Linked DNA regions of Homo sapiens. The protein of the gene in region 4 purifies or fractionates together with the protein of the main gene of each other region. This does not show direct contact. Each region holds a gene or a part of one and is shown on either strand. Other genes may lie near its edges. The genes, in order: ABCC1, PRDX4, RPIA, PAICS, PPA1, RRM1 and PFAS.

The links.
Region 1: the proteins of PAICS (region 4) and ABCC1 fractionate together in Homo sapiens (co-fractionation; one large-scale study listed by BioGRID). This does not show direct contact.
Region 2: the proteins of PAICS (region 4) and PRDX4 fractionate together in Homo sapiens (co-fractionation; one large-scale study listed by BioGRID). This does not show direct contact.
Region 3: the proteins of PAICS (region 4) and RPIA fractionate together in Homo sapiens (co-fractionation; one large-scale study listed by BioGRID). This does not show direct contact.
Region 5: the proteins of PAICS (region 4) and PPA1 fractionate together in Homo sapiens (co-fractionation; one large-scale study listed by BioGRID). This does not show direct contact.
Region 6: the proteins of PAICS (region 4) and RRM1 fractionate together in Homo sapiens (co-fractionation; one large-scale study listed by BioGRID). This does not show direct contact.
Region 7: the proteins of PAICS (region 4) and PFAS fractionate together in Homo sapiens (co-fractionation; one large-scale study listed by BioGRID). This does not show direct contact.

What each region holds. Positions count from the first base shown.
Region 1 is NC_000016.10:16,123,366-16,128,112, reverse strand, and holds part of ABCC1 (multidrug resistance-associated protein 1), read right to left. Parts: intron 3,325-4,747; coding exon 3,198-3,324; intron 2,304-3,197; coding exon 2,202-2,303; intron 1-2,201.
Region 2 is NC_000023.11:23,670,493-23,674,739, forward strand, and holds part of PRDX4 (peroxiredoxin-4 precursor), read left to right. Parts: intron 1-1,036; coding exon 1,037-1,154; intron 1,155-4,247. UniProt on the Homo sapiens protein: Thiol-specific peroxidase that catalyzes the reduction of hydrogen peroxide and organic hydroperoxides to water and alcohols, respectively.
Region 3 is NC_000002.12:88,747,173-88,750,672, forward strand, and holds part of RPIA (ribose-5-phosphate isomerase), read left to right. Parts: intron 1-2,808; coding exon 2,809-2,906; 3' UTR 2,907-3,500. UniProt on the Homo sapiens protein: Catalyzes the reversible conversion of ribose-5-phosphate to ribulose 5-phosphate and participates in the first step of the non-oxidative branch of the pentose phosphate pathway.
Region 4 is NC_000004.12:56,449,264-56,454,010, reverse strand, and holds part of PAICS (bifunctional phosphoribosylaminoimidazole carboxylase/phosphoribosylaminoimidazole succinocarboxamide synthetase), read right to left. Parts: intron 3,393-4,747; coding exon 3,309-3,392; intron 2,140-3,308; coding exon 1,959-2,139; intron 409-1,958; coding exon 250-408; intron 1-249. UniProt on the Homo sapiens protein: Bifunctional phosphoribosylaminoimidazole carboxylase and phosphoribosylaminoimidazole succinocarboxamide synthetase catalyzing two reactions of the de novo purine biosynthetic pathway.
Region 5 is NC_000010.11:70,208,933-70,213,679, forward strand, and holds part of PPA1 (inorganic pyrophosphatase), read right to left. Parts: intron 4,658-4,747; coding exon 4,531-4,657; intron 754-4,530; coding exon 626-753; intron 359-625; coding exon 273-358; intron 1-272.
Region 6 is NC_000011.10:4,128,607-4,133,353, forward strand, and holds part of RRM1 (ribonucleoside-diphosphate reductase large subunit), read left to right. Parts: intron 1-467; coding exon 468-544; intron 545-3,679; coding exon 3,680-3,815; intron 3,816-4,747. UniProt on the Homo sapiens protein: Provides the precursors necessary for DNA synthesis. Catalyzes the biosynthesis of deoxyribonucleotides from the corresponding ribonucleotides.
Region 7 is NC_000017.11:8,267,956-8,271,551, forward strand, and holds the end of PFAS (phosphoribosylformylglycinamidine synthase), read left to right. Parts: intron 1-577; coding exon 578-901; intron 902-998; coding exon 999-1,309; 3' UTR 1,310-2,531; downstream 2,532-3,596. UniProt on the Homo sapiens protein: Phosphoribosylformylglycinamidine synthase involved in the purines biosynthetic pathway. Catalyzes the ATP-dependent conversion of formylglycinamide ribonucleotide (FGAR) and glutamine to yield formylglycinamidine ribonucleotide (FGAM) and glutamate.

The DNA.
Region 1 (4,747 bases), on a different chromosome or scaffold from region 4:
CTATTATAAAAACTAATGAAATAAGTTAGCTGGGCGGGGTGGTGGGTACTTGTAATCCCAGCTAATTGGGAGGCTGAGGCAGGAGAATCACTTGAACCCAGGAGGTGGAGGTTGCAGTGAGCTGAGATCGTGCCACTGCATTCCAGCCTGGGCAAAAAAAAAGCCAAATTCCATCTAAAAAAAAAAAAAAAAAAAACCTAATGAAATACCTTGTAAGTGAATTAAATTCAGTGTCAAGTTGGAAGCCGCCGGTGTAATACACCCTTGGTTCCTCACGGGGGCACTCACGCCATTCTTACAATGCTCACCCGTGACATGGGACCTGGTTCACCCAGTCAGAATGTTAAAGGAGTGGGCCGAGGTCACCTCTGTGAATTCCTCAGGAGGACAGACCTTACAGAGGCCTTGGTCTCACTCCCAAGGGGCATCTCTCCTCAGGAGGCCGGGTAGCATGACTCCCATGGCACTGGATAGGGTCTCTGAGGAGGCACAGGCTCAACGCCTAGGTCTGCCATTTACCAGCCATGTGATCTTGGGCAAGTAACTTCAGCTTTTTGTCTCAGTTTCCTCACCTGTAAAATGGGGGTAATAGTAGCATCTAAATTATAGGGCTGGGCTGGGCATGGTGGCTCCCGCTTGTAATCCCAGCACTTTGGGAGGCCAAGGCAGGCAGATCACTAGAGCTCAGGAGATCAAGATGAGTCTGGGCAAAATCCCGTCTCTACTAAAAATACAAAAATCAGTCCGGTGTGATGGCATATGCCCGTGGTCCCAGACACTCAGGAGGCAGAGGTAGGAGAATCACTTGAGCCTGGGAGGCAGCGAATGAGATCGCACTACACTCCAACCCGGGCAAGAGTGAGACCGTGTCTCAAAAATCAGTCATAGAGCGGGGTAAAGACTGAGTGCATTACTCTATATTAAACGTTTAAGTCTGGGCCTGACATTCTACAAGGCACTATGTGTGTCCCTGTTATCATTAATGTAGGGTGGGGGTGTCGCCAGGCATTATTGTGATTATCTATTATCACTGCTGTTCCTACTTGTGCTGCTGTTCAGGGCCTAAGAAGGCAGTTATTAAGGGCAACGCAACATCAAAGACTGGAGGCACGGGTCCTAGTCCCAGCTGTTCTACCAAGCCACGTGGGACCTTGGATCAGCTGTTGTCCCTCCCCAGGTTCCCTTTTTCTCCATCTATAAAAAGGGGACTGGGGTTCAATAACGGCAGGGTTTCCCAAACTTTGGTCAGTTCCCAGCTACATCATTCGTGTAGTATGCATGTACTCATTCTCTTGTTGTTTTAATATGCTTAATCAAGTCACTTAGACTTAATTTCTCAACTTACTTAAGAGGAAAATTTATTACAATCACAAAAGGAAAAGTAGTATTATTTTCCGTAACAGGAGTCCCCTATACAAATACATAACAGGCCAGGCGCAGTGGCTCACGCCTGTAATCCCAGCACTTTGGGAGGCTGAGGCAGGCGGATCACCTGAGGTCAAGAGTTTGAGACCAGACTGGCCAACTTAGTGAAACCCCCATCTCTACTAAAAATACAAAAATTAGCCAGGCATGATGACAGGCACCTGTAATCCCAACTATTTGGGAGGCTGAGGCAGGAGAATTACTTGAACCTGGGAGGAGGAGGTTGCAGTGAGCCGAGATTGTGCCACTGCACTCCAGCCTGGGTGACAGTGAGACTCCATCACACACACAAAAAAACCAAATTCATAACAAATAACAGAAGGTTATTTCTGATAGACAGAATCCGTCCTGTTGAAGACTCCAAGTGTGAGGGCTGCTGTTTATCTGTCTGTTGAAGGGAGATCATCTCAATTGCTAAGGTGTTAAAGACCTGCTAGCCCCAGACTAAGACTTTCTCTGTGATACCATCAGAAGTTATGAAAGAGAAATAGAGGGGGAAACTTCTTCACAATGTGAATACCTTCTGAATGCCCTGACAGCATCCCACAGTCTCGTATATGGATACCCCAGATCTTGGGTAAAGCCGGTAAACTATTTTCACCCTAAAACCGGGCTCTAAATAAGTGCTGCAAAAAGACTGGACAAGCGTTAAGATGCACTTCTACCTGGTGAGGTATCCAGCTCAGAGGCAGAGGTGCACAGGATAGGGTCCAGAGATCTCCTTGGGGTAAAGCTACACCAAAGACCAAGAGGTCCAGCCAGGGGCCCTTGCCTACCTCCTTCTCAGTCTCTGAATACTCCTTGAGCCTCTCCACGGCCACGATGTTGGTTTCCATTTCAGATGACATCCGAACCAGCCAGTTCAAGTACGTGGTGACCTGTGAGTGGAAGAGTCACGTGGCATTTCTAGAGTAAGCGGGCGTACTTGACTTTCCTTTTTCTTTTTTTCCACTGAGATAATAGGAAACAAATTATTTTCAACAAGTATGAATTATGGGAGGCTGAGGCGGTCAGATCACCTGAGGTCAGGGGTTTGAGACCAGCCTGGCCGATGTGGCGAAACCCCATCAGTCACTACTAAAAATATAAAAATTAGCCAGGCATGGTGACGCACACCTGTAAACCCAGCTATTTGGGAGGCTGAGGCAGAAGAATCACTTGAACCCAGGAGGCAGAGGTTGCAGTGAGCCGAGATCCCACCACTGCATTCCAGCCTGGGTGACAGAGTGAGATTCCGTCTCCAAAAAAAATAAATAAATAAAAATAAAAGGTTATGAGTTATGAAACATTCAGGTAAGAAAGGTACCGAAATTAGCAACCCCAGGTATAGCCATCACCCAGGCCTGCCACATTGCCATCTCCTAAGCACACACATTTCCAAAATAACTCATGGGCCACATAATAAGAAACTGGAAAATATTTTTAGCCAGGTGACAATATGAAAACACAATGTATCATCATTTGTGAGATGCAGCTAAAGCAGTTCTTAGAGGGAAATTCATAGCTTTAAAAGCATTCCCCTCGTACCTGGAAGTATCCTCTTGGGCCACTAAGGAATCTGTGTGACTGATGGGGAAAATCCTGGCCACATGTCAAATCCGTCTCCTGCTCTAGTTGGTCACCAGGCACTGTGGCACTGTACCTGCTCCTCAAACTCCGTACCTCTCAAGTTCCTCTCCCCCATTCCTGTTGGAGCTGGAATCCAAAGCCAAGGACAACTGGCTCCCCCATTAACAGACTTTAATAATCCAGCCAAGAGCATCCCCTCTTACCTGCAATGAGTAAGACACTGAGAGGCCCACCAAGCCAGCACTGAGGCTGTGCCTGGAGATCACCGCAAACAGGGCAGCAAACAGAACGATGCAGTTGCCCACACACTCCAGCCGCACGGCCAGCCACCTGCGCCAAGACACACAGGCAGACAAACAGGCATGGAGTCAGCTCTACAGAGACTTGGCTTACAGCTCTTGGGGGAGGAAGGGGATTCTTTGCTAACTCAAGTAACTCCGCAGTAATTCCAGAGAGAGTCCTTCCTGGCACTGCTTTTTCAAAACATGCACAATGGGCGCAGGGTAGGGAGGGCCGAAGGCACGAGGCCAGTAAATCCTCATTAATCTGGCAAACCCATGGATTAAAACAGAGCTCTCCAGAGGCAATCTTCCCTGGAATCTGAAGCTTGCCTTTTTAAGAACCAACTTTTTTCTCATTGAAGCCTTTAAAATACATACACATAGGCCGGGCGTAGTGGGTCACTCCTATAATCACACACACACACATACACACACACACACACACACACACACACACACAGCCGGGCGTAGTGGGTCACTCCTATAATCACACACACACACACACACACACACACACACACAGTGCATTAACAACAACAAAAAGATGTCCTGGAAATTCCTAAATACTAAGAAGACATCAACTGTAAGAGACACTAGGGATTTAAAATAACCATCGTTTCTCGGCCTTTTGGCTAAAAACAAGTAGAAAATAACAGTCTCTTGTTACGAGACAGATCTGGGAGGGGAGTGCGTAACTAGTACGAGTAAACATCATTGTAACGTTCCCAAGCCCAGACTCTTCATTTCAAAGTGTTAAAATATACTATTTTACCCTTTAAAATAGAAACAGAAATCATGTTTTCTGTCATTTTGTTTTTTTGAGATGGGGTCTTACTCTGCCATCCAGGCTGGAGTGTGGATGACATGATCACAGCTCACTGCCGCCTCAACCTTCCAAGTTCCAGTGATCCTCCTGCCTCAGCCTGAGTAGCTGCGACTACAGGCCCATGCCACCACACCTGGCAAATTTTTGGTTTTTTGTTTTGTTTTTAGAGACAGGGTCTCCCTAGAGTGCCCAGGCTGGTCTCGAACTGCTGGGCTCAAGTGACCCGCCTGCCTTGGCCACCCAAAGTGCTGAGATTACAGGTGTCAACCAATGTGCCTGGTCATCTTATTTGTTTAAAGCTAGGTTTAGTATGGTATCATGTACCATCAGAACTATTTTATTTTACTTTTTATTTTATTCTTCTCTTCTCTTCTATTATTTCTTCAGATAGAGTTTCGCTCTCGTTGCCCAGGCTGGAGTGCAATGGTGCGGTCTTGGCTCACTGCAACCTCTGCCTCTTGGGTTCAAGTGATTCTCCTGCCTCAGCCTCCCAAGTACAGGCACCCACCATCATGCCCGGCTAATTTTTTTGTATTTTTAATATAGATGGGATTTTGCCATGTTGACCAGGCTGGTCTTGAACTCCTGACCTCAGGTGATCCACCCACTTTGGCATCCCAAAGTGCTGGGATTACAGATGTGAGCC
Region 2 (4,247 bases), on a different chromosome or scaffold from region 4:
CCATAAATGGTGGCTGTTACAGAGAAGTATAAGCCTTACTTTCTAGGACCCTTAGCCAAACTTAGAAGCAAGCATTGACTTCAGTGTTTGTAAGGGGTCTGAAAGTATAAGTGCTATCTGAATGTGTTAACAGAGCATGAAGGTGCATTAGTATCTAAGTGTGTTGGCTAAAATTACTGTACGCCCTTACAAGAGAGCAGCATGAACTGTTCAGTTTCCATTGGGTCACTTGAAACCTGTTCAAGGGAGTCTTCTTTCAAAGCCCTCTAGGAAAATGATCCCATGGTCTGGGATTTTACACTTCTGGCCTGACATATTTGTACATTCCCTCCTCATTTTGTGTAGCCTCATCTGCAGCAGGTCCTCCATGTGTATGTCAGAAGCTGGACAAACTAGTACATCTGGAAGACTGCCATTAGAGAAAGGAAAATCTAATTATTTGAAATGTAGGAAGTTGACAACTTGAAGCGGGACTATAGTGAAGTATCCAGGAGGGTTTAGTGCAGGGTAGAATTTAAGGGGTCTGTGAGCATGAATAGGGGAAAAAAGTATTTATTTTCACTAATCCCCATCTGAAATTTAGTGTTTCCTTCTATTATGAATGTCAGCAACAAACTACACTATCTTCAGCAGCACTTGCTTGTACCTTTCACCAATAGAATCACTTATTTTCTTGCTACATATGGTTATCGCAGGTATCCTGAAACACCATTTTCACTCATCATTATCTTACGTAGTTGTCAGATTACAACTAGATCTTGCAGTTTTGAAGTGTTATAGAGCACATGTATTATGATATCACCAATTTTTTTTAATATTTTTATAATTGCATTTAAATACAATTGGTTTCTTTTGTAATTCTATGTATTTTCCTTTTTGCATTCAATAACACTCTTTTAAGAAGTCTGTAAGCTTCACCAGACTGCCAAAGAGATCTAAAGGTAGCCCTGATTTTTAGTGATTTTCTAAAGATGTCCTTCTACCATTCCACCAACTTTCTCAGTGTTACAGAACATCATGTATTTTATTTTCTTAGTTTCCAAGCCAGCGCCCTACTGGGAAGGAACAGCTGTGATCGATGGAGAATTTAAGGAGCTGAAGTTAACTGATTATCGTGGGAAATACTTGGTTTTCTTCTTCTACCCACTTGATTTGTAAGTAATACATGTAAATAGCTAGTAAAATCTCAGTCTTTATCAATTATTTTTCAGGAGTATCAAACAAATTATTTTGTTCAGCTCTTGGTTTTTAAAAAGGCAAGCTGAAGTAAAGAAATGTATTTAAAAAGGTAACATCTACCATATATTTCAGAGTCATAACACACCGACCTCAATACTTATGTCTACATGATTATGTTATAATGGAATAATTAGAGGAAAGCTACAATATATTCATTAAGCTATACCTACTAAGGCAAGAAAATGGACTGATAATATATTAGAAAGCATTTAATAGCAAGACCTATGCCATAATTCTTTTTACTGTATCTCTCTTGATTAGAAAATTAATTCTGTAATCCCAGCACTTTGGGAGGCCAAGGCAGGTGGATTACAAGGTCAAGAGATCGAGACCATCCTGGCCAACATGGTAAAACCCCATCTCTACTAAAAATGCAAAAATTAGCTGGGCGTGGTGGTACGCGCCTGTAGTCCCAGCTACTCGGGAGGCTGAGGCAGGAGAATTGCTTGAACCCTGGAGGCGGAGGTTGCAGTAAGCTGAGATAGTGCCACTGCACTCCAGCCTGGCGACAGCGAGACTCCATCTCAAAAAGAAAAGAAAAAGAAAATTAAGCCATTTTCTCTAGTGATACCATGTAACTGTGGTTTTTCCATTTTTATTCTTTGCTGCATCTGTTGCTTTTCTGGGATTTGAACATTTTGCTGAAAATATTATATACTGCTTAAGGAATAAGGAATAACACCTGTGTATATGTTATGGTTATTGTGGGGTTTCTCGTCTTTTTTTAACTCTGTGACAGTGAGCGTTTTTGTATATGGTCAGAAAGTTGACTAAAAGTAAATACCCTTACAGCTTTATTCACGTTGAGGATTTAATTTTATTTTACAAAACACTATTTTGAGTGTTTTTCAAAATTCATGAAAGTGAGAAGAGACCAAAAAGAGTTATGTCAATTTTTATCTTTTATTCTCTTGGAACTTACTTTTTGGTTACAACAAATAACTAGAAGTTTCCTCCTCTATCTTTGCCACTGTGCCTTTTTCCATTAGGACTAATCTGGAACTACATAGATCAAATTTAAACTTGCAGGGAGGGTATACTTAAGCTCATTGCTATAGGTTGTTTCTAGGCCAGGGATTAACAAATTTTTTCTGCTGGATTTGGCCTATTGACCTATTTGCCAACCCCTGCTCTAAGCCACAAAGGAAGAATTCTCATGAAAATTATTACATTGAGACTAAAGTTATGAGTCTGCATAATATATAATCTTTTAAATTATAAGAACTTGCTTCTTTCTAATCAACTCATATTGTGACTTGATTTTTTTAAGTATAGCTTAATTTCTAATAGAAACCAGAAGTAGAAATTTCAGTAGACATAAAAAATGACAGGCCTTCTAAATTCATGTTGTTATAAAACCAGAAGGTTAACATGTATGTTAAATATATACGACTAACACCCTGAATTTGGAAGTTAGTCTAATGTAGCAGAAAAATATGTTCTGTGTTTCTCCATTGTTATTCATAACTCCATAATGGGTAAGAGATAGTTAATTGGAGCATGTTGTTAGCAATGGTCTTCTGGGACAAGGAGCTAAGATAGCCTCTTCCTGTTTTCATGTAATGCTGGACTGTGCCTGGTTAGAGAAGGAAGAATTCTGGGGCATTTGCCACAGTCTACAAGGAGGAAAGTTACAAACGTAACCCTTCAGTTTCCTGCCAAAACTTTTTCTGTCTTCACTAAGAAGTTGGTCAAATGTATCTCTAGGTAGCATTCCTTGAAATAAGAAGAAAGGCAGAGGCTGGGTGCAGTGGCTCACGCCTGTAATCCCAGCACTTTGGGAGGCCAACATGGGCGGATCACCTGAGGTCAGGAGTTCTAGACCAGCCTGGCCAACAAGGTGAAACCCCGTCTCTACTGAAAATACAAACAAAATTACCCGGGCGTGGTGGTGGGCGTTTGTAGTCCCAGTTACTCAGCAGGCTGAGGCAGGAGAATTGCTTGAACCCGGGAGGCGGAGGTTGCAGTGAGCTGAGATCGCGCCACTGCACTCCAGCCTGGGTGACAGAGTGAGACCCTGCCACAAAAAAAAAAAAAAAGGAAGGCTGAGGCTGACCATTCCTACCCTTTAGAAAATATTAAAAATACATTTTATAGCCCAGGTTTCCAGGGACATCATCCGAGATTAGAACTGTCTACTTGGACATGACAGTGCTGTACCTGAATACCTGAAACATGTTAAAATCCTGTATTGGTATCTGGTAGGAACTTGTGCCCTAACTAAGTCTATGTTTTTCAAACTTTCTTGACCATGTCTCACAGTAGGAAATACATTTTTCGTTGTCAGCCAGTACACAGGCACATATATATACGGTAACATTCCATCTGGATGCACCAGCACAGCCATGCTCCTTAAAATACTGAAAAACCCTCATATCATGTGGTAAATAGCCACTTCCCTTTCCTCACCAACTAGTTAGTCCTCCTGCCTGATCCCTTTCAGAAACCTCCAGAACTAAAGCCAGCTTTGAGTTAAGATTGTTAAATATTTTGAATATCATCACTGTTGAAGACAAACATATATATTTGTATATATAAATATGTGTTTCATAATTTACCCTTAGTATGTATGATAGAGTCTCCTGTTTTCTATTCGATTTCACTTTTTAAAAATATTTTTTAGAACTCAGTTAATTTAAGGAGTCCCTACCACGGTTTGAAAAAATGCCACCCTAGTAATATTCTGTAAACATGGCCTGACAACATGAGGGTATTAAGGTATAAAATCCCTGGCTGCACAGGACTGGTAGACAAGGTGGAAGAGGACCTTATCAAGAAAGGAGGGGTGGGGGTACTGGAAAACATTGCCTCCTCTCCAAAATACACATAGATGCATCTAATTCATAGGGTTGGTATAGGAATATTAAAAAAAAAATAGTGAAATGACATAAAATTTGTATAGATCCTTTGAAAGCTATAAAATACTATATAAATAAAAGGTATTATTAAATAAAAGTAATAAAATGAGGGGTGGCTATTGCTATAAGGGAGAAGGGAACATTGGTTGA
Region 3 (3,500 bases), on a different chromosome or scaffold from region 4:
GTTCCCAGGGGGATTATGGCTGCCTCTTCTGCGTCATACAGGCTGCCAGGGAAGTAGGAGAAAGCCGGCAGTGACAGACCCCCACCCAGCTGCCACACAGCCAGCAAGGCCAGTTTCACTCCCGCCATGCCCCACCATGGTGAGCAGGGCTGAGATCTTGCCCCAGACTACAGGCCTCCCTACTGAGAAAGCAAGCAGGCCTCTCAGGCCTCGCCCCTCCCTGCCTGCCTGCACCTTCGGCTGTGGGTTCTTCATTTGTATCTGCACTTCCCATTTGTCCCCCACCGGATTCTGCTCAGGAAAATTTGTGCTCAGTTGAAATTATTACGAAGTTCAGCTAGAAGCTTCCTTCATCCTGTGGCCCCTCCCCAGTTCTGCTGGCTGCCTTTTTTTCCCGAAGGACCCCTGTGAGATAAAGCCAGGGATGGCTTCCCTGGGCTCAAGCTGGGGACTGGAAGTGTCTACAGGGCTCTTCCTGCTGCTGCTTCTACTTTTATAGTTTGCTCAGCTCTCTAAATCCATTTCAGCTCTAGGTAAGATTAAATCCGTCTCCTGTGATCTGGATTTTTCAGGTTCCCCGGTGGGGATGTATGTTCAGAGGCAGACTTTTCCCCCTCTCACACTTTGGGAACTCACAGTTTTTTGGCTGTCTTATGGAGTTTGCAGCAGCAAGCCACTTCTTTCAAAGGGTCTGTGAATTCTTTTGGTTTTCCTGGTATGTTCCTGTGGTGGTTCTTGGAGCAAAAGTTCACAATGTGTGTCTCCACACACTGTTCTGTCTGTCCAAGTGGGTGCTGCACATTAATCCTGTCTTCTATTGCCATTTTCCTGCAAGTTTTCATTGTATTTATCCTTTTGAATTTGTGTAGTTTAAAATTATGAGTTAAACAGTGGCAAGTCCTCTTTGCCACTTTTCCAACCAACTAGTTACCCTATCTGGAGGCAGCCAGTGTTACCAAAATTGTGTGGCCTTTGAGATAGACTTTCATAAACACACAAATTGCAACTCCTCCCGCCCCACCCCTTTTTACACTAGCGGTAGCCTGCTTTATACATGTTCTGTTTCCTGCCTTGCCTGTCTTGGAGATTATTACACATTGGCTTATAAAAGAGCTTCCTTGTTCCTTTTTTTTCTGAATACCTGCATGTATTCCACTTTACCTATGTAACATTATGACTTAACTGGATCACCACTAGTGGTCATTTATGTTTGCAGATTTTTGCTAGCAGGGAATCACTGGATGAAAGGATTAATGTGTCTGTGATTTTTGTTAGATGGTTTCAGATTGCCGTCTGTAGCTTGTATTCACTTAGCCTTCTACCAACAGTGTGTGCAGGTATCTGTTTCCCTGCATACCTGGTCCATTATACCTTTTCTCTTACAGTTAAAGTGTTATGTCATTGAAGTATGTGTGAGTATATGTAAATATTCTTGGTAAAGGTTGTGTGTAGTTGTTAATTTTCACTGCTGAATCATATTCCATCATCTGTATGTGTGTGAAAAAAAGTTTATATCTATTCTACTCTTTTAGTTTTTTCTCTTTCTTTCTTTTTTTGGAGACAGGATCTTGCTCTGTCACCCAGGCTGTAGTACAGTGGCATAATCATGGCTCACTGCAACCTCTGCTCCTGGGCTCAGGCGATTCTCCCACCTCAGCCTCCTGAGTAGCTGGGACTGCAGGCATGTGCCAGCATGCTTGGCTAATTTTTGTATTTTTTGTAGAGCTGCCATCTCTATGTTATGTTTCCCAGGCTGGTCTCGAACTCCTGGGCTCCATCAGCTCCATCTGGAGCTCCATTGAACTCCTGGGCTTCATTCCCAAAGTGCTGGGATTATAGGCATGAGCCACCATACCCAGCCTCTATTCTACTCTTGATGGACATTTGGGTATTATCAGTTTTTAGCTAATAGGAAAAGTGCCACTATCAACATCTTACACATGTCTTTTGATGACCAAATGTATGCCTAACAGTTGTATATCTAGGAGTAGAATTGCTGAGTGGTTAGGTGTGAATCCATCAGCTTGGAAGATGAACATTTCCAAAGTGCTTTTGCCAGCTCAGCTTTCACCATCAATGCGTATGAGTGTCTTTGCATCCCAGCAGAATTTCATTACACTGACTTCAGTGTGTGTGTAGTGATATCTTGTAATATTAATTTGTATTTCCTTTCAGTGAATGATTTTGAGCATCTTTTAAAATGTTTATTGGCCATTTTGGGTAGCTTCTTTTGTGAGGTACTTCTTCAAGTCTTTTGCCCATTTTTCTATGGGGATTCTGTCTTTTTCTTGATGATTTATAAATTGTTTATATTTTTGATATGAGTCCTTTGTCAGGTATATGCTTTGCAAATATCTCCTCCCATTCCGAGGAAATCTTTCAAGGCTGGTGGTATGATTGAAAATAACTGGTAGTGGGGCTCCTTGGCTGGAGTAGTCATGGAGGGTCTCTAGAGGATGACTTGCCATCTGATATGTCTGAAGGACAGAGCTGAGCCAGCCCCTTGAAGTGCTTGACAATGACTGGCTCAGGCAGAGGGAACAGCATGAACAAAGGCCTCAGGGCAGGACAAAGCTTAGCATGTTTGGGTACAGAAAGAAGGCCAAAGTGGGAGGGGAGAAAGAGGTGGCAAGAAGAAATTAAGATAATCAGAATCTCTTTTCATTGCTCTGTGGGAGAAAAAGGCTTTAGATTTGTCATTCGTCCAATGCTGTGTATGACAGTTGCTTCTAGTGACCCTGCAGTCTTTGAGTCTCTTTTTGCTTTGGGAGGCTGAAACAATGTTTCTTTCTGTCCTTTGTCCTGCAGGTGTGGTGGACACAGGCCTATTCATCAACATGGCTGAGAGAGTCTACTTTGGGATGCAGGATGGCTCAGTGAACATGAGGGAGAAGCCTTTCTGTTGACCCTGCAAGGAGCAGAGTGTGTTCACCTTGAGTCTCCAGCCCACAGCCAAGGTGGACGTACCTCTCCAGGAGCCTTTGCCTTAATGTATCTCTGCCTGGACAACTTGTGGTGGGGGGTGGGGGGAAGAGTGGGAGGGGGAGTTAAATCCAGTCTTATGAAGTATTGTTATTAAATGTCTTTTTAAAAAGAGAAATATAAACATATATTTTTACTATTAAAATATTCAGTTTTTTAAATGAAGTAGAACTTGAGTTCATGTTTTATATGAAATATTTACCAAAAAAAAAAAATGAGGTAAACTGTATTTAAAACCTTTGACTTGAGTCTGCTGGTAAAGCTTCTGAATATTGAGTTTGCTGAGAAATAAAAATCAAAACTTCTTTAAGCTGGTAAAGTGAGGGGCCCACCAGCAGTGATCTCCTGATGCCTTACTGGAAACTTTGTTTACTTGTCTGCTACCCTCTGATTTGTTTTTAGTTAGTTTTTATTGTGAGCACACATAGTACCTAGTTACATCTTAAGATCAGGTTTATAAAACTGTGGAGTGGAGCGGTATGGTATGGAATGACTTGGAATGTAAGCTGTCAGGGAGA
Region 4 (4,747 bases):
AACAATATCATGATTATGATTTAAAAACTAGAGCCTGTATTACTTAAACATATACTTAAGTATAAATTACTATAACGTCTAAGATCTGCTTTAAAATAATCCAGCAGGAGATGGCTGTAGACACAACAAGATGTTAATTGCTGAAGCTAGGTCATGGGTACATGAGATTTTATTATGCTATTCTGTCTACTGTTGTGCATCTGTTAAATGCTTGTAATGAACAGTTTTTAAAAATTCAATGTATCTTACCACTGGGTAGTCGAAGAGAAGACCACACATCCTGAACTCCCCAGTCTGGTGTGAGGGGAGGACAGCTGATAACTGGATATGCAGTGTTCCCAGACATCACTGGTCCCAAACCATTACTTCTGCCTGCCACTGCCACAAATACAGTAGGAATGCCATCCCCTAGGGAAATGACAAGAGTATAATTATGCTAAACATTCAAAACAGATTTAAAGACAGGGTTTTTTTTTTTTTTTGGTTTAAGGCCTATATGTTTTAATTACTTGAGGTCCTTGAATAGTCTTCTCTGAAAAAACATAAAAGATACTATTATTACACATATATTCAAAACATAAGGTTACTCTGCCACTTACTATAAGTCAAGTAATAAAGTAGCTGGAATCGGTTTGGTTGTTTTTGAGATCTACATTATAAAGGGGATAGCAGGGTGTCAGTGAGGGAATAGCTCATAGGCCTCTTCTATTGCTGTATAGGCTGGCCAAAGTGAAGAATGACACCATCTGAACAGGTGTCTTTCTTGACTGGGTGGTCCCTCAACTGGTGCAGGGAGAACCAGTTAATATAAACTAGGGGTTTAGGGACACGTCTTCAAACAAGAGTTGAAGGAAAGTTTAATTAATATAGTGTCCCCCAAATTTTAAGGCCCTTTGATACATTTTTTAACATAATCTCTTAAGCAATTCATTCTTTGATAAATTTATAAATTATCCTCCTGTTTCCTAAAGCAGAGATTTGTTAACCTAGAATCCAAAATTGTATGTATTTGCAATTTTCTGAAAAGAGTTCTAGAATTCATTAGCTATCAAAGGAGTCTGAGTTCCCCCAACCTCCCACTCCCCCAAAATTAGTAACTACACTTCCATAGCAACAACCTGTACACGAAATAATCAACATTTTTTTCCAGTTGAGAAACATTTGGTTGTAAACCCAGGGCTCCATTATTTTAGATCACTGCTATACCATTATTTTTTATGTACTATATTCTGAAACTGTTCTTTAATTTCCTATCTGACTGCCTCCCAGGAAAGGGTGGCAACTAAAGATTCCCGGGAGAACCGGCTATTTTAACCTCCCGCCTCCTGTAACTGTGGGGGCCTATTTTCTATTGGAGTATATTAGAAGCAATGCTCCAGGGGCTTCTTACCAGGTAAGGATGCCAGAGGTTCTCATCATTCTAGTCTTTGTTTTCTTTTCATACTTGCATTTTTAATTATTTCTCCCTGCTCCTTTCTTTTCTAAGCTTCTAGAATACCTTAAGCTCTTTGGAGGTGAGTATTAAGAAAGCCTAGCGGCCAGGCGTGGTGGCTCATGCCTGTAATCCCAGCACTTTGGGAGGCCAAGGCAGGCGGATCATGAGATCAGGTCAAGACCATCCTGGCTAACACAGTGAAACCCCGTCTCTATTAAAAATACAAAAAATTAGCCGGGCATGGTGGTGGGCGCCTGTAGTCCCAGCTACTTGGGAGGCTGAGGCAGGAGAATGGTGTGAACCCGGGAGGTGGAGCTTGCAGTGAGCTGAGATGGCGCCACTGTACTCCAGCCTGGGCGACAGAGTGAGACTCCATCTCAAAAAAAAAGAAAGCCTAGTATATCATGTGTTTTTCCCTTAGAAAACTGACAAAGCTCTTTTTTCAGCATTATTAGTCTAAAGTGTGTAATTACTTTTAGCAAAATCAGAAATACCTGAAATGTCCATATTACTTGTGGTTTACCTTCATACTCAGCTTTAATCCTCAGAGTTTCATCTGGTCCTTTATGCGCAGATGTTACTCGAAGTTCACATGGAATGCCAAAATTTCCACAGGCCTTCTTGATTTTTTCACAGTGACCAAGATCAGAAGTAGAGCCCATCAACACTACAACCCTGCACTGACTTTCTGATTTCAAAAGCAACTGAAGAAAAAATACGTGGATATGAAAAGAACATAAAAACAAAAATGAATAAATGAGCTAGAGTTTGTAGTAAAATTATATCTGGGCCCAATATTTTCTTTCTTAACAGATCAAATTTAAGACAGAGACAAACAACAAAAAGACAGGATTTATTTTTAAAAATCTCAATATATAAAGGAAAGTGGTCTTCATCAAGACCTAAAGAATTCAATTTTTATCAGACAAATTATTTAAAATAAACAGTAAAGATACTCAAAATCTTTTAATTTTCAGGAAATTATAATACAAAATATTTCATCCTAAGACCTTTAGTGCACTTTGTTTAATGGAAGCTTTAAGGTATGATTAGCCAAATCAGAAGTCATGTTCTAAGTCTTTGTAAGTTAATTGCTTGTAACTCAAAATATATATTCCTATAAGAATAATGTTCTCAAATGTGATTATGACCCTTGCATAATCACAAACCCCATTCAACTCCCAGAATTATAGTAATACCATAAAACTTAAAGGAATATTTAAAGTCACACAGAGTTCCATCCATCCCATGCTAATGGAACTCTGACTAGCAGTGCAGGTGAGTAGGAAATATAAGGTTTCTCCTACGGGGTAGGGAGGAGACAGATTCCAGGTTTCCCCAACAGGATCTGGGAGGTATGTATTGGCCAGCTTAACAGCACGGAGTTCCAGTATCCTAGTAAGGATAGCCCAGCTGATACATTTCCTAAAAGTGTTCCTCACTTTCAAAGTCACTGAAGAGCTGGGCGTGGTGGCTCACGCCTGTAATCCCGGCACTTTGGGAGGCCGAGGCAGGGGGATCACGAGGTCAGGAGATCAAGACCATCCTGGCTAACACGGTGAAACCCCGTCTCTACTAAAAATACAAAAAATTAGCTGGGCGTGGTGGCCAGCGCCTGTAGTCCCAGCTACTCGGGAGGCTGAGCTAGGAGAATGGCGTGAACCCGGGAGGCGGAGCTTGCAGTGAGCTGAGATGGCGCCACTGCACTCCAGCCTGGGCGACAGAGCAAGACTCCGTCTCAAAAAAAACAACAACAAAAAACAAAGTCACTGAAAAGAAAAGCACTATACTCTCCCATTTTTTTTTCTTTTGAAACAAGATTTTCTTAGAAGAAAAACACATAATACATACAGTTTTACTATAGAAGGTTTACCTCTACTCTCTCTGCAACCCACTCAAAGTTTTTCTTTACCATTTGGAGCCCTTCAGGAGTTACTTCTTTGAGGTCCCGATAAGACTAGAAAATAAGATAGAAAGTTTAGAAAACAAGTATCTCTTGCTACCTGAAACTATTTGGTTTCTGAGTTTTGGGGAGGGATTATGAAGAGTTTGTATAGCAAGGGATACTTCTGAAAATGCATCTTTTCACTTCCTGAATTAAACTAACAAAGTTCCATAGTAAAGTATACTTTTATTTTCACTTAAGGTTAAGTGTTTTCTGTACTAGCAACTACAATTAACTGCCTTGAGAATTTTTATATATTAAGTATAGAAAGGGTCTTGCTCTAATTTTGTTTTCTGTTATTTTTTATTTTAAATACATGTGCAGAATGTGCAGGTTTGTTACATAGGTATACATGTGCCATGGTAGTTTGCTGCACCCATCAACCTGTCATCTAGGTTTTAAGCCCCATATGCATTAGGTATTTCTCCTAATGCTCTCCCTCCCCTTGCTCCCCACCCTGCAACAGGCCCCGGTGTGTGTTGTTCCCCTCCCTGTGTCCATGTGTTTTCAGTGTTCAACTCCCACTTATGAGTGAGAACATGTGGTGTTTGGTTTTCCGTTCCTGTGTTAGTTTGCTGAGGATGATGGCTTCTAGCTGAATCCATTTCCCTGCAAAGGACATGATCTCATTCTTTTTCTTTCTTTTTTTTTTTTTGGAGACAGAGTCTCGCTCTGTCAACCAGGTTGGAGTGCAGTGGCACAATCTCGGCTCACTGCAACCTCCACCTCCCGGGTTCAAACAATTCTCTGCCTCAGCCTTCCGAGAAGCTGGGATTACAGGTGCCCACCACCATGCCTGGCTAATTTTTTTTTTTTTTTTTTTTTGAGACAAGGTTTCACTATCTTGGCCTGGTCTTGAACTCCTGACCTTGTCATCCACCTGCCTTGGCCTCCCAAAGTGCTGGGATTATAGGTGTGAGCCACCGCGCCTGGCCAATCTCATTCTTTTTTATGGCTGCATAGTATTCCATGGTGTGTGTATATCACATTTTCTTTATCCAGTCTAACACTGATGGGCATTTGGGTTGGTTCCATGTCTTTGCTATTGTAAATAGTGCTGCTCCTGTGCACGTGTCTTTACAGTAGAATGATTTATATTCCTTTGGGTATATACCCAGTAATGGGATTGCTGGGTCAAATGGTATTTCTGGTTCTAGATCCTTGAGGAATCACCACACTGTCTTCCACAATGGCTGAACTAATTTGCATTCCCACCAACAGTGTAAAAGCGTTCCTATTTCTTCATAGCCTCTCCAGCATCTGTTGTTTCCTGACTTTTTTAAAACAGCCATTCTGACTGGTGTGAGATGGTATCTCATTGTGGTTTAGGTTTGCATTTCTCTAATGATCAGTGATGATGAGCTTTT
Region 5 (4,747 bases), on a different chromosome or scaffold from region 4:
ACAGGTATGTACCACCATGCCCAGCTAATTTTTGTACTTTTTGTAGAGACAGGGTTTTTCCATGTTGTCCAGGCTGGTCTTCAACTCCTGGGCTCAAGCAATCCATCCACCTTGGCTTCCCAAAGTGCTGGAATGACAGGTGTGAGCCACCGCACCCAGCCTTGTATCTCTTTTCTAAGTGAAAGTAACAGTACAGTGTCTTATGATTATTAAAACCTTTTCTGCAAGCTGGTCTGCTTTGTGTGTTAAACATGCAAAGTGTTTACACTTACCAACTGATTCCTTTTCCATTCGTTTTCTTAGTCACTAATGCTTTCCAATGGTCATGAGTGCTTTTAATAATATCAATGGCAAAGTCCTATAATTTGAAGAGGTTTGCATTACAATGATAAAAAGGTATTATTTTCCTATTATCAACATTTCCCCAAAGCCTGATACTTTGTCTCTTCTGAATCATTTCCTTATTCTAAAAATGGAAGAGAATATTAAAGTGAATAAATAAACACCAAGACTGTGTTATGTTTCCAGACTTCTGTTTTGTGAATCTTTAGATGGTAACAATATGGTTAAATTATGAGTCTCAATACAAATGAGCCTAAAGCTACAGTTCTGAATGACATATTACCTTATCTTTAAATTCTGCATTAAACGCAAACTCATTTTCTGGTTTTCCATCAGGAACCTTATACCTTCTAAACCAGTCCACAGTAGCTTCTAAGTAGCCAGGTTTCAGCCGTTTGACATCATTGATATCTAAGAAGAGAAGAAGCATAAGATGACAGTGAGAATGATTTTTTTAAAAAGAAAGAAGAGAATAAGCAGATTTCAAGATGCACAAATAATTATACACTCAACAAAAATTCCAAGTACTTATTTTGAAAGAGCTGTGGAATGACTTATCACGGAAGTTCAAGATAACATTGGAGCGAAGCCCCTTGTTGAGAAGAGAAGCCATACACATATACATTGAAAGAAAATCATCTAGTATCTCTGAATAGCTCTGACACTAAGTACAGAGAACAATCAGTACAATAGTAATCTCTGTTAGGTAAGGGCAAACAGCTGGTGGCTACATAATGAAACAACCAGTTTGGCAAATGTAGATAATTCCTATGAGAAGTGTACAAGATACTGAAAAAGACAGAGGTTATCTTTTTTTTTTTTTCAGAGACAAGGTCTCGCTCTGTCACCCACGCTGGAATGCAGTGGCCCGAACAAGGCTCACTGCAGCCTTGACCTCCACAGTTCAGCGATCCTCTCACCTCAGCCTCCTGAGTAGCTGGGACTATAAGCATGCACACGCCCAGCTAATTTTTAAATTTTTTGTAGAAATGGGGTCTCGTCATGTTGCCCAGGCTGGTCTCAAACTCCTGGGCTCAAGCAATCCTCCTGCCTTGGCTTCCCAAAGCACTGGGATTACAGGCTTGAGGTACTATCCCTGGTCCAGAGGCAGAGGCTATGTCAGAGGATCACAACACTATTACATACTAAAAGATAAGAAAAATAGATTAGATTGATATCCATTGATGGGTTACGTATTAAATGTGACTAGACTTTGCTGGATAGTACAGGCACTGTACATAACAATACTTTAGTTCTGGCTGACAGAAAAGTGCACTGCTTTAAAAATTTTAAGTTTCTGTATAGCCATCAACAATGGCTAGCCTCAATGTTATCAAACTGCACTTCAAATAACAAACTCCTGCTCAATGCAAGCAAACAGAGATACACATCCTAAAAAGTCAGTTAGGAAAAGTATTATGAGGAAGAGAAATACATTCAACAATAACAAAAGCTTATTTATATTTGTATAAGATAACATTGCTTCACTCCAATTTATTTTTTTTTTTTGAGAAGGAGTCTCGCTCTGTCTCCCAGGCTGGAGTGCAGTGGCGCAATCTCGGCTCACTGCAAGCTCTGCCTCCCGGGTTCACGCCATTCTCCTGCCTCAGCCTCCTGAGTAACTGGGACTACAGGTGCCCACCACCATGCCTGGCTAATTTTTTTGTATTTTTAGTAGAGATGGGGTTTCGTGTTAGCTAGGACGGTCTCGATCTCCTGACCTCATGATTCGCCTGCCTCGGCCTCCCAAAGTGCTGGGATTACAGGCGTGAGCCACCGCGCCCGGCCGCTTCAATCCAATTTATAATCTGCATAAAGAATAGCATGCATTCTATTATCATAATATCACTAAAAGTATGGAAACTTTACAGAATGCACTGGGAAATGTTTAAGCACTAGTAAATTTCAAAGAACTTATAATTTACATGAAATGTGTCACCTGATATAGAAATAATTTGGAAATCCAGAAATCCAACATGCAAATGTTGATGTTTTCCAATAACAGAAACTAATTCTCCAATTATTCAGACACCAACTGAGTGCTCAGTAATTCACTGTGATTCTGATACTATCTACCTGGAGTTAGCATCAGATCTCAAAGGTTAGGGGCTCAGTCTCACAAGACTGCCCCACTTCAGATGCCTCCTGTACTTTTGACTATCAGCTATAAATTAGGGGTTTCTACAATCCTCTCCCCAGGTCCCCTAATTTGCTAAAATGGTTCACAGAACTCAGGAAAACACTGAAGTTTAAATTTCGTTATATAAATACAACTCAGGGACAGCAAATGGAAGAGATGCACAGGGGCAAGCTATAGGATGGACAATAGACACTGCCTTAGGTTGACATTAGGGAAAGCTGCATACTACTTGCGCCATGGGACCAGCCACCCCGAGAAAGTTTTCAGGGTTCTAATAACCTGAACTGCAGGAAAATAAAGCCTTAGTAAATGAGTGCTGACAGAGTGATGGGCTTGGCTTCACTAATTGTGGCCACAGCATGCCAAGTTCTCTTGCATAAGAAGCACGTTGGAAATGCACACACGGACCAACAGAACAGAGCCGTACTACCAAGTAGTGAACAGATGGTGTGAATGCACTCTCACCTTTCAAAATTGAAACGAAACATTAAAGGATTGGCATTCTTCCAGTCCTTCTTCAATGAATTAACACAGATGCAAATATACATCACATCATTTTGAGGGAACATGCTCTCAAGGTGACTCTTATCACTGCTGACATTGACCTCCATCACCTGGCTGAGGCAGTGTTTGTCAAGTTTCTCTGCTCTAAAGTCATCCTCTCCTCTCCCTTACCCACACTGTACTCTTTGGAAGGAAGTCACCAGGCACAACTCACAATTAAGGACCTCCTTGAGAATGGAGTATCTGCATAAATTATTTGGAATTCTTCTGCTTTGAGATTTGTCTATTCTTCCTCATTTGTCTATTTATTCAATCATTTATTTGTCAGTATAGACTCATGGAGATTTATTTTATGTTCCAGGTTATATTACAATACTACTTTATTTTCTTGCTCAAAGTGTTCTAGCTTTGGCAACTCCTATGTATGTACCCAATAATAAAAACATAAGTCCACACAAAAACTTGTACAGGAATGTTCATGGCAGCATTACACAGCCAAAACAACCCAAATGTCCATCAACTGATGAATGGATAAACAAAATGTAGTATATCCACACAATGGAATAATATTCAACCATAAAAAGGAGTACTGACAGATGCCACAATATGCAATATGGATAAACCTAGAAAACATTATACTAAGTGAAAGAAACCAGAAACAGCAACAACAAAGATCCATATATTGTACCAGTCCATGTATATGAGATACCTAGAATAGGTAGAATAGGCAAAGCTATAAAGACAAAAAGCAGATTAGTGGCTGCCAGGGCCTGGAGAGGAGGAGGGAATAGGGAATGACTTGAACTAGTGGTGATGGCTGCACAACCTTGTGAATGAATGAAATGCCACTGAATTTCACACTTTAATTAAAATGGTGAATTTTATGTTATGTAAAATTTACCACCAAAAAAAAAAAAAAAGGGAATGAAGTGCTGATACATACTACAATACGGATGAATCCTGAAGACACTTACTTCGCTAAGTGAAATAAACCAGACACAGAGGCCACCTATATGATGCCATTTACATGAAATAACAGCATAGGCAAATCCATAGGCACAAAGTAGATCTGCAGTCATCAGGGACTGAGGGAAGGGGGACAGGGAGTGATTGCCCATGGATACAGGATTTCCTCTGGGCTGATGAAATGTTCTGCAATTAGAGAGTGGTGATGGTTGTACAACTTAGTGAATATACTAAAAACCACTGAATTGTACATTTTACAATGGTGACTCTTTGATATGTGAATATCTCAATTAAATGTTTTAAAATAAATAAACATACCAACTGAGTGCTGGTATGTGGGGAAGGAAAGGACCAAAAAAACAGTAAGAACCTACCAGATTTTTTCTTTCCTGGAATGAAGGAGAAAGTTTACTTAGTTAATTACAAGTGCAGTCATAGAAATAATGCTTGTCCAGTGCTTTGTTCCTCCATCCTTTAACAGTTTGAAGGTAAGGGCTTACAATTCTGTCATTATAGGTTAAGTATGGTGGTGCTTATGAATTAATTAGAAAGACTTCAGACTTTTCAAATTTTCTTACCATTATAATTGGCTGCATCAGGATCATCCACATTAATGGCAATGACTTTCCAGTCGGTTTCCCCTTCGTCAATCATAGCCAATATGCCTAGAACTTTCACGCCAATTATTTCACCTCTTGCACATACCTGAGAGTCAATAGCCAAAGTCAGGACAACATTACAGAACCACACTCTAGAAGACAGTTTTACTTGGCTAACAGGAAATAAGAAAGAGGC
Region 6 (4,747 bases), on a different chromosome or scaffold from region 4:
TTCCCACTGCCTTTATTATCAGTACTATGATTCTTTACTATATAAAATGTTAATTTCATTTCTGACATTCCTGCTGATATTAGAAAATCTAATGTGTGGTTATTAGAAAATAGGTGTTTTTAGCTAAGTAAACAGATCAAGGGACAGATGAAGGCACTGAAGAAAGTAACATTTTTAGTGTTAAAAAAAGAGAATGTGTCAGCCACACCCTTTTATGAATGTTAGAGTTTTCTGGTTTGTAGATATGACATGGGATAATCAGTTTTCTTAGCCTGCTTCTGATCAATATGACTACATGGAATTTTGTCCAGGAAAATCTCTGGAGCTTGTATTCCTCATAGAGGTTGATTAGAAGACAGCATTTGTTGGGATGTGGGGACATGGCAGCTAGTCATTTGTGGGTTTTTTTTTTTTTTGGTCATAGTTTTAACTTGCTGTAGAATAAATTTGAGTTGTGTATTCCTTAGATTCTTCAGTATGATATGTGGAATGTTACTCCTACAGACCTATGGGACTGGAAGGTTCTCAAGGAGAAGATTGCAAAGTAAGTGAAAAGATGTAAAGTAGCTTTGAAGGCAGAAGGGTTTAGGTTCACCTTCTGGATCTTCAGAAGTTAGATATGTCATTTTAACTTCTTAAACTCATTTATTACAAATGGGGCTAAAATGGCCTATCTCACAAAACTATTTTGGGAAAAAACTTCGTAAGATAATATATATAGTAACCTGGAAGTTGCTTGGCACAATGAAAGCATTTCAGTACCTGGTAGGAATTACTATTATTAGTTGATCTTATTTTAGGGACTTAACACACCTAGATTAGGTAATTTTCTTTCTCATTAAGGCTTTTTTCCAACTATGATTTTTTTTTTTAAATGTTTTTCATTCTTATTTATTTCCCAATTTAGTTACATCGGGCATATAAATGGCTTTTGTTTGAATTGATTGTCATAGGAATAATGGATTTTGGAAGAGTTTTTGGAGGGTAATGTGTTTAGACTATATGAAAAAAAAATTTTTAAATTGAGTTTTTGTAGGCCTTTCAAACTAATAAGCATAAGGGATTCGAAGGCAGACAGAATGTTTTGCAGAGTGAATAACAAAGCAAATTGTTTTTGTTTTCTATCGTGATGACTTTGTCATTTATGGGTTAATGCATATGCAAAGTGATTAATATTTGGAGAATGAAGCAGTAGCTTTAAAATGCTCTTTAAAAAAAATAACCGTTTGCCTTAAAATTGTTAAATTAAAATTGTTTTCCTACTCAAATAATACATGTTAGAAAATTTAGGAAAACATAGATTTGGAAAGAGAAAATGAAAATTATACTAATACTGCCTCCCCCAGAAAACCTGTGTGCATCTTAGTGTCTGTCATCCTTTAGGTTTTCTTCCAAGAGTACACATACATGTGTATTTACATGGAAATTCAACTTTTAAGAAAATGGACCTGTACTGTATTTATATATATATATATATATATTTTTTTTTTTTTTTTTTCCCCTCAAAATACTATGGCTTAGTTTTTTATATACATGACTTTTTTTCTAATTTCAAAATTAGTATATGAACACAAATTTATTATTAATAAAGCTCAAATACAGAAATAAAATAGAAAGTAAAAGCCCTTCTTCATACTTCTGCCAACCATTTGTCTCAGAAAACAAACCAAAAAAGTAACTTATTCTTTTTCCCAGAGATAAGACTTGTTAATGGTGTGTATTTTTCTAGATCTTTTTCAGTACATTTGCAGATAGGTACACATACACGGTTTTGTCATATAAATGTGATCAAACTTGATGTATTCTGGGCTGGGCACCATGACTCACGTCTGTAATCCCAGCACTTTGAGAGGCTGAGGTGGGTGGATCACTTGAGGTCAGGAGTTCAAGACCAGCTTGGGCAACATGGCGAAACTTAGTCTCTACTAAAAATACAAAAATTAGCTGGGCGTGGTGGTGCATGCCTGTAATCCCAGCTACTTGGGAGGCTGAGACATGAGAATCACTTGAACCTAGGAGGTGGAGATTACAGGGAGCCGAGATCATGCCACTGTACTCCAGCCTAGGTAACTGTGACTCTGTCTCAAAAAAAAGACTTGATGTATTCTGAGACTTGTTATTTAGTGATTTATTTTGGAGCTCTTTCTCTTTTAGTACCTGTAGGTCTACCTAATGTTTTTAATTATTATAGACAATTCCATAGTTTGAATATATCATATATGTAGGACTTTTCACAACATTTACCTGTCTGTAGACAGATGATGTTGCTATTTTACAGATGAGGAAGTAAAGACATGAAGATAGTTGGTGGTTTGCTTGATACCTCACTACAAAGTGACAGAGTAAGGTGGAGAACCACCCCCCAAAAAAAGTAAATAAAAAAATAATAATAACTAAAAAGTAGAGAACCCAGTTGTATTAGTCGATTCTCACACAGTTATAAAGAACTGCCTGAGACTGGGTAATTTAAAAAGGAAAGAGGTTTAATTGACTCACAGTTCCGCAGGGTTGGGGAGGCCTCAGGAAACTTACAATCATAGCAGAAGGGGAGGCAAACAGGTCCTTCTTTAATACGGCGGCAAGCAAAGTGCTGAGTAAAGGGAGAAAAGCCCCTTATAAAACCAGATCTTGTGAGAACTCACTATCTCATGAGAACAGCATGAGGGTAACCTCCTCTGTGATTAAATTACCTCCCGCCAGGTCCCTCCCGTAACGTGGGGATTATGGGAACTACAGTTCAAGATGAGATTTGGGTGGGGACACAGCCAAACTATATCCAGTTGTACAGACTCCGTCAGGATATGAGGCTGTATGCTAAGCACTGTATGAATCCATAGGTATAGAATGTAGGAAAGACAGGCTCTTTGTGTTTTAAAAACTTGAGACTAAGAAAACAAGTAGTTAAGGTATACGGAAAGGTACAGGTCAGAGAAAATGTTTGCAGAGTAGATATTTGTATTTGACATTTGTATTTGTGCCTGCCTGATGAGGAAAGATGTTTTAAAATTGCTATCAATTAGGCTGAGCTTTGAAGGTGAGCCAGGGGCAGTTGGGAGATTTCTCAGTGTGTCAGATAGTGTATTTTCTCTTATTAGTCAAAAGATGTTAACCTTCTTGCAGGAACTTATAATTGAAGAATATACTTTGAGCATAATTTCTTCCTCTTTACAGGATAATGGAGAATTGTGGTGATATTTCTCTGATTCTGAACACTTTCTCATCATTATTTTTCCAGAAGGGGCCTAGCACAATGATTTTATAGGCACTTGGAAAAGAGTGAGGGTTGGATGAGTGTAACCTAATACAGGTGGGGAGCGCTTCAACAGTGATTTGAATATTTCCCTACGCAAGATAGTGTATCAAGTGTTATGATTCCTGAGTGCCACAGTCCAAGTGGCATAAATCATGGTATGATAAGGATAGCCAACAATAAAAATTGTACTAATTCAGTTTAGGAGTCAGGCATTTAAGAGGAGAGTGGGCTATAATAGCACCCATACTGTGGAATTGCCTCCCTGTAGGAGTTTAATTTGAAAGTCAACGTGTGAGTTCAATGCATGTACGATGTTACATTTACATTTACTACATTTATCTACATTTACTACAGTGACTTAAAGTAGCTGCTTTCCTGGCAGATTGTAGCTTTGGGACTAGTACCTGATAATCTCCTTTTCTTTAGGTATGGTATAAGAAACAGTTTACTTATTGCCCCGATGCCTACAGCTTCCACTGCTCAGATCCTGGGGAATAATGAGTCCATTGAACCTTACACCAGCAACATCTATACTCGCAGAGTCTTGTCAGGAGAATTTCAGGTGAGCAGTTCACAACCAGCCTTACAGGGAGATCTTTCAAAAGCCTGATGTTGGGAGTAAATGCTCACTCATGTTTAATTTGCCCATTTTCTTAGTTTGGGTGCAAACTTTGATAAAGACAGTCATCTTCATCTCTAATATTATTATTTGTTATTAATATTTCAGCACAATAGGCATTTAATAAATAATCTGTTGAAAGAATGAGTGAATGAGGGTCGAGTATGAAAGTAAGTTGTTGATAGTTAAACATGATGTTTAACCATTATGTAATCATAGTGATATATTCTATAACTTCTCCCAGATGCTTAAGTTAGGATACTCAAAATGTATAAAGAAGTATCATTTAAGGCAGTGGTTCTCAGACTTGGTTACCAATTAGAATTTATGGTGGGTGAGACCAGTGGTTTTTTCTTTGTTTTTAAGGTTCCCAGGTAATTCTTATGTGTAGCTAGGGTTGAGAACCTCAATTTAAAAGACTATTTGTGAATTTCCAGATATCTTGAAGTAAAGTTCTGTAAAGTTCGAGAAGGATACGTTTCCAATTTTTTTAACCTAAGTATTTATAGATTTACCCATCTTAGGCGCTATTCTTTTCACTTTTGCAAACGCCATATGTTTCTTTTTTAATGAAAATATTTTTTCAGCTTTATTAAGGTATAATTGACAATAAAAATTGTGTATAAAACCAAGGTATACAGTGTAATGATTAGATATGTGTATATATTATATAACGATTACCACACCACAATGTTTTTGTTGTCGATACTGTTTTTGAGAAAATGTCTCACTTTGTCACCCAGGCTGGAGTGCAGTGGCATGATCTTGGCTCACTGCAGCCTCTGCCTCCTGGGTTCAAGCAATTCTCATGCCTCAGCCTCCTGAGTAGCTGGGATTACAGGCATGCTGCGCCACCATGCCTGGCTAATTATATT
Region 7 (3,596 bases), on a different chromosome or scaffold from region 4:
AAATATATATTATTTATATATATTATTTATATATTATTAAAATATATTATTTATATATATTATTTATATATTATTAAAATATGTATATTTTTAAATATATATATATATATATATGTATTTTTTGAGACGGAGTTTCACCCTTGTTGCCCAGGCTGGAGTGCAATGGCGCAATCTTGGCTCACCGCAACCTCCACCTCCTGGGTTCAAGCGATTTTCCTGCCTCATCCTCCCAAGTAGCTGGGATTACAGGCATGCAAAAATACAAAAATTAGCCAGGCGTGCTGGCGGGCGCCTGTAATCCCAGCTACTTGGGAGGCTGAGGCAGGAGAATCGCTTGAACCCAGGAGGCAGAGGTTGTAGTGAGCCGAGATCATGCCACTGTACTCCAGCCTGGGTGACAGAATGAGATTCCATCTCAAAAAAAAAAAAAAAAGAAAGAAGGAAAGGAAGGAAGGAGGGAGGGAGGGAAAAGGAAGAAAGAAAAAAGAAAAGAAACAGAGCAGTTATGCCCCTTCATTCCCAATTCCCTTTTTTGAGGTCCTCCATGTCTCACCCTGACTTCCCTATTCCCTGCTAGGGTGGGCAGCTGCTGTGACCTTTCATCCCAGGGCTGGGGCTGAGCTGAGGCGCTTCCGGAAGCGGCCAGACACCTTCAGCCTGGGCGTGTGTAATGGCTGTCAACTGCTGGCTCTGCTCGGCTGGGTGGGAGGCGACCCCAATGAGGATGCTGCAGAGATGGGCCCTGACTCCCAGCCAGCCCGGCCAGGCCTTCTGCTACGCCACAACCTGTCTGGGCGCTACGAGTCTCGCTGGGCCAGCGTGCGTGTGGGGCCTGGGCCAGCCCTGATGCTGCGAGGGATGGAGGGCGCCGTGCTGCCCGTGTGGAGTGCGCACGGGGAAGGTCAGGCCCAAGGAAGGCTGGGGGAGGGCCCGAGGGTTGGGGGCAAGGGTGGGCATGAAGGACCTTGGCTCTCACTTCCCTCCTCCTTCCATCCCAGGTTACGTAGCATTTTCTTCTCCGGAACTCCAAGCTCAGATTGAGGCCAGGGGCTTGGCTCCACTGCACTGGGCTGATGATGACGGGAACCCCACAGAGCAGTACCCTCTGAATCCCAATGGGTCCCCAGGGGGCGTGGCTGGCATCTGCTCCTGTGATGGCCGCCACCTGGCTGTCATGCCTCACCCTGAGCGGGCCGTTAGGCCTTGGCAGTGGGCATGGCGACCCCCTCCATTTGATACTCTGACCACCTCCCCCTGGCTCCAGCTCTTTATCAATGCCCGAAACTGGACCCTGGAAGGGAGCTGCTGACTGGCCACAGGGGCTCACCTGGGCCCCATGGCTTTTCACCTAAGTGGGTCCTGCCCCCTCCCCCATGACCTTCAGGAGCACCCCATATTATTTCCAAAAATATCTTGGACAGACAAGGACCAAAATGCCAAAATCTCAGCGGACTCGATAATCTGCCTGCTGATGTTCCTTCTGTGGCTGTGTCTATTTTCAGTTCTGCTCTAACATGGCATGCCCTTTCTCAGCCCAGGAAACAGCATGTGGTTCAGAGAAAAGAGCGACAAGGAAAAGTTAGGACTCCTGAGGTCCGAACAGGGGCTTCTGTTGCCCACTTCACAACACCCAGTGATCACCGGTGTGCAATTGCCTCCTTGGCTCTGAGGGATGTTTTGCGCTCCCTTTTCTCATCATTGGGGTTAGCGGGTGCAGACAAATTCAGCAATAGTATGCAGATCAGCCCCTCACCACCTCATTGTTCTCATCTGGAACTGAAACTTTCTGGATTTCTCTTGAAGTGCTACACTGCACTGAATGTAAGGAATTGTTGCTTGTGGAAGTTTCTCAGCGTTTCTGGCTGTCTTAGGGCTGGCCTCAGAACCCAGCATTCCTGTTATTTGCTTCTAAATTAGCAGCTCTCTTTTTTTTTTTTTTTTTGAGGCAGTCTCACTCTGTCACCCAGGCTGGAGTACAATGGCGTGATCTCGGCCCACTGCAACCTCTGCCTCCTGGGTTCAAGCAATTTTCCTGCCTCAGCCTCCCGAGTAGCTGGGAGTACAGGCACACACCACCACACCCAGCTAATTTTTGTATTTTTAGTAGAGATAGGGTTTCACCATGTCTCCCAGGCTGGTCTCAAACTCCTAACCTCAAGTGATTCGCCTGCCTCGGCCTCCCAAAGTGCTGGGATTACAGGTGGGAGCCACTACAGCTGGCCCAGCAGCTCTGTTTCTGATAGAGGTGGTTGGGGCTCTCATCCCTAGATCCTAACCCTTTAGTATGCTGGAATTCTACTCTTCACTTACTGCATTGACTGTTGTTGATTAGTTATTATTGCAAAGCACTGTCACCGGCCTCAGGGAGTTTATGTGTAATAGAATTAAAAATAATAGCTGTGTATAACACTTAGCTCAAGCCACGCATGTGTGAGGCATTTGGTATGTATCTGAATTAATTCTCACTAAAATTCAGCAAAGGACTTGATAGCCCCTCCCCGCCTTTTCAATAAAGGATGAATGAAGGTTGACTGCATTGCCTGGGGTCCACAGATGGTGAGGGGGGCTGGGCGCACCCATACTACATCTGCTTCCCGCCATCCTGCAGTCTTACTTCCTGGAGGCAGTGTGTTGAGACTTTGTGCTGGCAGCTGTCTGTTGCTTCCTTTGCTCACAGGACTGTGGATAGAGGTCCCTTCCTCATGACTGTTCTGTTGTACACCTCAAGTCAGTTGGCTCCCTAGAATGTTCAACATCTTGATAAAAGGAGTTTGCCTGAGAATGGAGACTATAATCCCAGATCCCTGAGGGCTAGGAGAGCTGGGTGGGGGCGCTGAGCACTTCTGTGTGCTCCTGGTAGAGTAGCCACCCTGAGAAAAAACTGATAATAATGAAACAATGTTAAATGATGGCTATGGGGAAAACAACTATTTCAGAGATTTTTCTCATTGCTTTGCAAAGCGACCTACCCTGAGCAGTATGGGACTCCTCCGGATCATTTTTGACATTTGAATGTTCTTTCCTGACCCTTGGAAAGGATATATGTATGTCTTTCAAATTTATAGTATCGAACATACAATTTGGGGGCTGGTACCAAGGGTTAGATATTAAGTTTATTAAGTGCTTGATGCAAAAGTCAAAGGATGGCATGGGAGGTAACCTGGTTGGCTGTGATAAGTAAACTCGTGGATTTTGAAGGGGGAGCAGTTTCTGGTTTGGGTCGCAGTGGCCAAGTAAGACCCACCCTCCTCAGACACTATCAAGACCAAGTCCACTGGCTTTTCATCCGTGTTTTCATCCAGTAACCAAATAACCCTGTCCTTGCTGACCCCCACCCAGCTCCATTCCCACTCACCCACTCCCAAGGGCCCTCTGGTGAACCTTCCAGGCTAGCTCTCTGCTCCCTCCTTGCCTTCATGGAAAACCAGCTATCCTCTGAGAGCCACTTCTGCAGCCCCTCCAAGTGGTGGCTTTTCTTCTCAAACCTCAACCTCACATATCTCATCTTCCCCAGGCTGGGGAGTCGGGGTCCTCGTACCACTGCCAGACTGTTCACCCAGTTCAAAGAAAACCCTGCCCGTTGCAGGCTCATGCCA